Linked DNA regions of Homo sapiens. The gene in region 1 interacts genetically with each later gene. Each region holds a gene or a part of one and is shown in the gene's direction. Other genes may lie near its edges.

Region 1 (3,500 bases):
CCCAGATCATCTACTCAAGCCTCACCCACTCTGTCTTTTCAAATCCCTGCTGGGACTTTTTTTTTGAGATGCGGTCTTGCTGTGTTACCCAGGCTGGAGTGCAGTGGCATGGTCTGGGCTCACTGCAACCTCCGCCTCCCGGGTAGGTGGGACTACAGGTGCGTGCCACCATGCCCGGCTAATTTTGTATTTTTAGTAGAGACGGGGTTTCACTGTGTTGACCAGGCTGGTCTCAATCTCCTGACCTCGTGATCCGCCCATCTCGGCCTTCCAAAGTGCTGGGATTATAGGCATGAGCCCGGCCGGGACTTCTTAATACCCCCAGTGACAGCATGCGCAGAGCATCACTGTTTTGAAATTTTAGAATATTTATTAAGCTTAAACCTATTTTCCCACAACTTTTACCTGTGGGTGTTAGTCTTGTTTTCTGGAGGTTGTGTATCGCCTGTCTTCCTCATTAAACAGCTTACTTTCTTTTTAACTGTTCCTTTCCACATGCGAACTTCTGGTGTGTCCCAGGCCCTCTCATTGAACCTAGAACTGAGCGTCATACACTATTTTAATTGTCTTAGTGTGGGGTCTGTAAGTGAATTCCAAGAGAATTTGGATTCTCTAGGTCTGCTAGTGCAGGCCAGGATTTCACCAGCTTTTTAGGTGGTTTAAGAATTAGAACTTGTCATGGAGTGTATGACTTCCAAACTCCGGTAGCTTTCTAAATTATTACAAGATTTGATGAATGAATTTAAATGTGAATGTATTTATTTTTGAATGTCATTGTGGATATACATGGTAATTTAGGAAACTTGAAACAAGAAGTGACCAGGATACGTCAGTGATGGGGTCATATAATGGGAGACCCGGGAGGTGTGACAGAAGGAAGTAGTTTCTTTTTTTTTCTTTTTTTTTTTTTTTTTGAGATGGAATCTCGCTCTGTTGCCCAGGCTGGAGTGCAGTGGCATGATCTTGGCTCACTGCAACCTCTGCCTCCCGGGTTCAAGCTATTCTCCTGCCTCAGCCTCCTGAGTAGCTGGGATTACAGGCATGCGCCACCACACCGGGCTAATTTTTCTTTTGTATTTTTAATAGAGATGGGGTTTCACCATGTTGGTCAGGGTGGTCTCAAGCTCCTGACCTTGTGATCCGCCTGCCTTGGCCTCCCAAAGTGCTAGGATTACAGATGTGAGCCACCACGTCCGGGCTGGAAGTAGTTTCATGTCTGATCCCAGCTCTGCAGCTAGCTTTTGGACTGTGGACAAATCCTTTCACCTGTCAGGTCAGCTTTCTTATCCATAAAATGAGAGGATTGGATACATCAGAATCACCTGAAACTTGTACACATATCTAGTCCTAAACACTGAGATTTCTGATTCATTCATTTCCAATTCATTCTGATTGATTAGGTCAAGAAAGGCCATTCAGACAATAGCATTTTAAAAGATAAAGGCATCCCAGTTTGGTATTCATCGGCCCCTGTGAGAAACATTTGTTAGGAATGTGTCAGAGTTCTCCTTCTCCGGACTGAGTTTACTGAAGTTACGTTTTTGTCCTCAGATTACTTCTTTCCTATCCCTCCTTTAGTGTGACTTTGGAAAATCTCCTTGAAGGTCTTTGAGTCCCATTTCCTTCATGTATAAAACTTCTCCAAGTTATTAAGAGGGTGAAATGACAGAATGTATATAAAGGCAAACTTCCTGCTGCATTGCAGGCCTGCAATCACTGATGATTTTTCTCCCTTCTCTTTTCTACGCTGTAGCTTTTTATCTTTCCAGTTGTTAGATGCCTAATCTTCCCTGTTCACTTGCTCCTCCTTCCTGCAACACTCTTGTGTATATTTCCTTGATCATTGCTATCATCTTTCTCATTTTTATATGGTATCTGTAGAGAACACAGAACTCTGAATTCTTTGCTTGGGCCTCCTGGGGCTTTTCTGGTAGTGTCATTTCCCTTTCTGTGCAGTAGGATTGATGGGCATGCCTAAAAGACTTGGGATAAGCAATCCTCCCTTTTCTTCCCTAGACATCTCCAGTTACAGCCCGAACACTGGAAACTCTGATTCGACTGGCCACAGCCCATGCGAAGGCCCGCATGAGCAAGACTGTGGACCTGCAGGATGCAGAGGAAGCTGTGGAGTTGGTCCAGTATGCTTACTTTAAGAAGGTGAGGATTCAGATGCCTGGGCATGAGAGGATCTCCTGGATATATTACAGATGCATGGGCTTCCCAGCCTTCCGTGGCTGACGGCTACATTTGGATTGTCAACAGAAAGCAGTATTTGTCTTCCAGTCATCAGTCTGCCTCACTCTTTCCTCTGAAACACTCAGTGATTCTCAACCCTGACTGCACCAGAGAATCAGATGGAAAGCTTTAAAATGCTGATTCCAGGGCTCCTAGAGATTCTGGTTTAGTTGATGTGCTGTACTTTCAGTTAGCTGCTTCTCTGTCTACCCCTACTTCCTTTGCATCTTAAAAAAAAAAGTAGGTGTTTTCAAAAGAGCTACCTTGGTAATCTTCCTTGTCCCACTCTACCTTTCCTCTTGGTAGTCTCTTCAAATGTCCCATTGGCACCTCAGAAGCTCATGTTTAAAGTTGAACTCTCAAACTTGCCACTCATCCTGTTTCCCTATTTCTGTTTGTGACATTGCACCTCTGTCATTTTAGATATCAAGCCTCAAAGCCTAGACTCCCTTTTCCTAGTTGCCCACTCCCACCCCAGTCTGGTGAATGTTAGCCTTTTGGGGTTGAGTTGTGAGTCTAATAAACTCTTCCTTGCTTTTTGCTAGGTTAAGGGTTGAGTTGTGAGTCTGATAAACTCGTCCTCACTTTTTGCTAGGTTAAGGGTTGAGTTGTAAGTCTGATAAACTCTTCCTCGCTTTTTGCTAGGTTAAGGGTTGAGTTGTGAGTCTGATAAACTCTTCCTCGCTTTTTGCTAGGTTAAGGGTTGTCTTGGATTTCAATTAGACACCTGATTTATAAGGAAATGGATTGTTTTCACTTAACCATTATGGGCTAGACATTTGTTTCTTTATTCAGTAAACATTTATTGAGTACCTACTATATAAACAGCATTTAACATACTTCCCAGCATTTTGAAAAGATGGGTAGCAGTCTCTACTTCTGCCCCTGGTCCTGGGACTTAGGGACAAGAGGAGCTAGGTAAACCATTGGAAACATGGAAGTCTTTCCTGCTTATGATGCAGAAGGGACTGGGAGTTCTTGATGCAGTTCCCCTGCATCAGTGACCCCTCTAGCCCAGCCACACTTGCCTTGGTCTTAGGTTCTGGAGAAGGAGAAGAAACGTAAGAAGCGAAGTGAGGATGAATCAGAGACAGAAGATGAAGAGGAGAAAAGCCAAGAGGACCAGGAGCAGAAGAGGAAGAGGTAAGGTGGGGCAAGCAAATGAGATTAAAAAGTTAGTGGCCAAGAAGTTGGGGGTGCACGCCTGTAATCTTAGCAATTTGGGAGGCCGAGGCGGGTGGGTCACTTGAGTCCAGGAGTTTGAG
Region 2 (3,500 bases), on another chromosome or scaffold:
TATCTCATTGTGGTTTTAATTTGCACTTCCCTAATGACCAGTGATGGTGAGCATCTTTTCATGTCTTTGTTGGCCATTTGTAGATCATCTTTGGACAAATGTCTATTGAAATCCTTTGCCCACTTTTAAATTGGGTTTTTTTATTCTTTTTTTTTTTCCTTTGAGACAGGGTTTCGCTCTGTCACCCAGTCTGGAGTGCAGTGGCGTGATCTTGGCTCACTGCAACATCTGCCTCCTGGGTTCAAACGATTCTCGTGCCTCAGCTTCCTAAGTAGCTGGGACAGCATGTGTGCATGAGCCACTATGTCTGGCTGATTCTTGCATTTTTAGTAGAGATTGGGTTTTACCACGTTGGCCAGGCTGGTCTTGAACTCCTGACCTCAAGTGATCCTCCCACCTTGGCCTCCCAAAGTGCTGGGATTATAGGCATGAGCCACCATGCCTGGCCTATTCTTGAGTTGCAAGAGTTTGTTTCTTTGTTTGAGACAGAGTCGCCCAGGCTGGAGTGCAGTAACGTGATCTCCACTCACTGCAACCTCCGCTTCGTGGGTTCAAGTGATTTCCCTGCCTCAGCCTCCCCAGCAGAGAAGGGGTTTTGCCATGTTGCCCAGACTGGTCTTGAACTCGTAAGCTCAAGCCATCCACCTTCCTCAGCCTCCCAAAGTGCTGGGATTACAGGCATGAGCCACCCCGCCCAGCCAAGTTGCAAGAGTTCTTTACACATTTTGGATACAAGACCTTTTAAGATATGATTTTCAAATATTTTCTTCCATCTGTGGGTTGTCTCTTCACTTTCTTTGATGATGGCCTTTGAAACATAAAAGTTTTAAATTTTGATGCAGTCTAATTTGTTTTTTTCTTCTGGTTATTTTTGGTGTTTCTGTTGTCATATCTAAGAAACTATTCCCTAATCCAAAGTCATGAAGATTTACACCTATGTGTTCTTCTAAGCATTTTTGACTTTTAGCTCTGCTATTTAAATCTTTTATCTGTCTTCAGTTATTTTGTAGATATGGTGTAAGGTAGGGGTCCATATTCATTTTTTTGCATGTGCATATCCATTAGTCACAGCACCATTTTTTGAAAAGAATATTTTGCCCCTCGTTTAATTATCTTGGCTTTTTTGTTGAAATGGTCAATTGATTTTCAGCAATATTCTGTTGATCTATATGCCTAACCTTATGCTAACAACACAGTGTTTTGATTGTTGTACCTTTGTAGTAAATTTTGAAATCATAAAGTGTGAGTGTTCCAACTTTGCTTTTTTTCCCCCAAGATCATTTAGCTATTATGGGTCCCTTGTATTTCCATATTAATTTTAAAATCAGCTTGGATTTTGATAGGAAGGACATTGAATTTGTAAATCAATTAGGGAGTATTGCTGTCTTAACAATTTGGGAGTATTGCTGTCTTAACCATGTTAAGTCTTCTGATCGATGAACATAGAATGTTTTTCCATTTATTTGAATTTTATTTTTTTCATCAATGTTTTGTGGTTTTTAGGGTCAAGTTTTATATTTAACTTTTAAAAATTGTATTCCTAAGTATTTTATTCCTTTTGATTTTATTCTAAATGGAATTTTTCTTAATTTCATTTTTGGATTGTTCATTGCTAGTGCATAGATATATAATTGATATTTATATATTGATATTGTATCTTACAATCTGCTGAATTCATGTATTAGTTCTAATAATTATTTTTGTGCCTTCCTTAAGATTTTCTCTCCACAATAACATGTCACCTGCAGATACAGTTTTTCTTCTTCCTTTTTAATATCAATGCCTTTTATTTCTTTTTCTTGCCTACTTGCCCTAACTAAATCAGTGTCGAATAGACATGCTAAAAGTGGACATCCTTGTCTTGTTCCTGATCTTAGGGGTAGAGCAGTCAGTCTTTGACTTTTAAGTATGATGTTAGCTGTGGGAAACAGATTGTTTGAAAGGACTTTTAAAGCTTATTTATTCACCTTCATTATTTAAAAGCTGTCTATCGGGCCGGGCGCGGTGGCTCACGCCTGTAATCCCAGCACTTTGGGAGGCCGAGGCGGGCGGATCACGAGGTCAGGAGATCAAGACCATCCTGGCTAACACGGTGAAACCCTGTCTCTACTAAAAATACAAAAAATTAGCCGGGCGAGGTGGCGGGCGCCTGTAGTCCCAGCTACTCGGGAGGCTGAGGCAGGAGAATGGCGTGAACCCCAGGGGGCGGAGCCTGCAGTGAGCCGAGATTGCGCCACTGCACTCCAGCCTGGGCGACAGCGAGACTCCGTCTCAAAAAAAAAAAAAAAAAAAAAAAGCTGTCTATCAGACATTATGGTAGAATACTGGTTAGTTGGACATATGCAAAAGCAAATTCTCTGAAATAGGAAGTATATCATCATGTGGAACAGTTACCAAGAGCCCCTGTGTTAGTCTGGGTCAGTCAAGAAATAATTTCTGGAGGAAGTAGTTGAGACCTTAAAAGTTAATAAAGTTGACCATGCAAGGGAGAAGAGAGTGTTCTGAGTGATAAAAATATCAAGGCAAGTGAAGTCATGGCCTGCCTGAGAAATACAGTATGTATTCCAGAGGGTATACTTCCAGGAGGTGGTGCTAAGAGATGACGCAGGACAGGTAAGCAGGGGCTAGATTATGAAGGTCTCACATGGGGCCTGTTACTACATTATAACTTTGCCTGCAGAGCAACCAGAAGTCATTGAGGATTTTAAGAAGGAATAAAAAGGGGGCAAGGGGTGGAAAGAGATAATCTGATTTGTACTGTAGAAAAAATAGGGTCCTAGTTTGGGCCAACAGCCAGAAAACTAGTTAGAGGTTTATTGCAGTAACCCAGGAAAGGATGATGGTGTACTGGATAGTGTCACGGCCGTAGAGACGGAGATAACTGAAGAGATTCCAAAGAGATTTAGGAGTTGTAATTGCATGTTAGAGGAAGACGGGGTGAGGATGATTCCTAGATTTTTGTCTAGGGCAAATGGGTGGATGATGATTTGGGGAATACAGGAGAAATAGTTGGGAAAAGGTAATTAATTTTATTTTGGAGATACTGAGTTTGAGGTGTTTGGAACATATCCAACTGGGTATTTCCCATAGGTAATTGGATTTGATGTTTAGGGTGCAGAAAAAAGGTCTGGGCTAGGTCTATATGGTAGCTATAGATGTTATATCGTTATTGAAGACATGGTAAGGGATAAAATTCCTTCATTCAAAATATAGTCATTTACCAGTTCACAGTATACACTTAGAGATGGCACATAGAACCCATCTTACTCTATTCTCCAAAACACCTCTGACTCCCCTCTATCTTGCCTTTTTTCCTGCCTTCCCTTCTCTTACCCTCCCCTCACACCAAAACAGAAATTTCACATAACTTAATGAAGACGTAGTAATGTGTATTATAAGAGTATTACCATTAGCTTCTCATCCTTCACTTAAATATTGATGTCAGCAAGATTTCTTCTTGCAAAGATAACATCATACCATAATATTTGTTTCAATTTTAG

What was found. Genes that interact genetically often act in the same process or in processes that back each other up.
Region 2: changes in MCM3 (region 1) and ATR are lethal when combined (synthetic lethality), as found in Homo sapiens cells (one large-scale study listed by BioGRID).

What each region holds. Positions count from the first base shown.
Region 1 is NC_000006.12:52,267,743-52,271,242, reverse strand, and holds part of MCM3 (DNA replication licensing factor MCM3), read left to right. Parts: intron 1-2,016; coding exon 2,017-2,157; intron 2,158-3,236; exon of another isoform or gene 3,237-3,274; coding exon 3,275-3,378; intron 3,379-3,500. UniProt on the Homo sapiens protein: Acts as a component of the MCM2-7 complex (MCM complex) which is the replicative helicase essential for 'once per cell cycle' DNA replication initiation and elongation in eukaryotic cells.
Region 2 is NC_000003.12:142,453,234-142,456,733, reverse strand, and holds part of ATR (serine/threonine-protein kinase ATR), read left to right. Parts: intron 1-3,500. UniProt on the Homo sapiens protein: Serine/threonine protein kinase which activates checkpoint signaling upon genotoxic stresses such as ionizing radiation (IR), ultraviolet light (UV), or DNA replication stalling, thereby acting as a DNA damage sensor.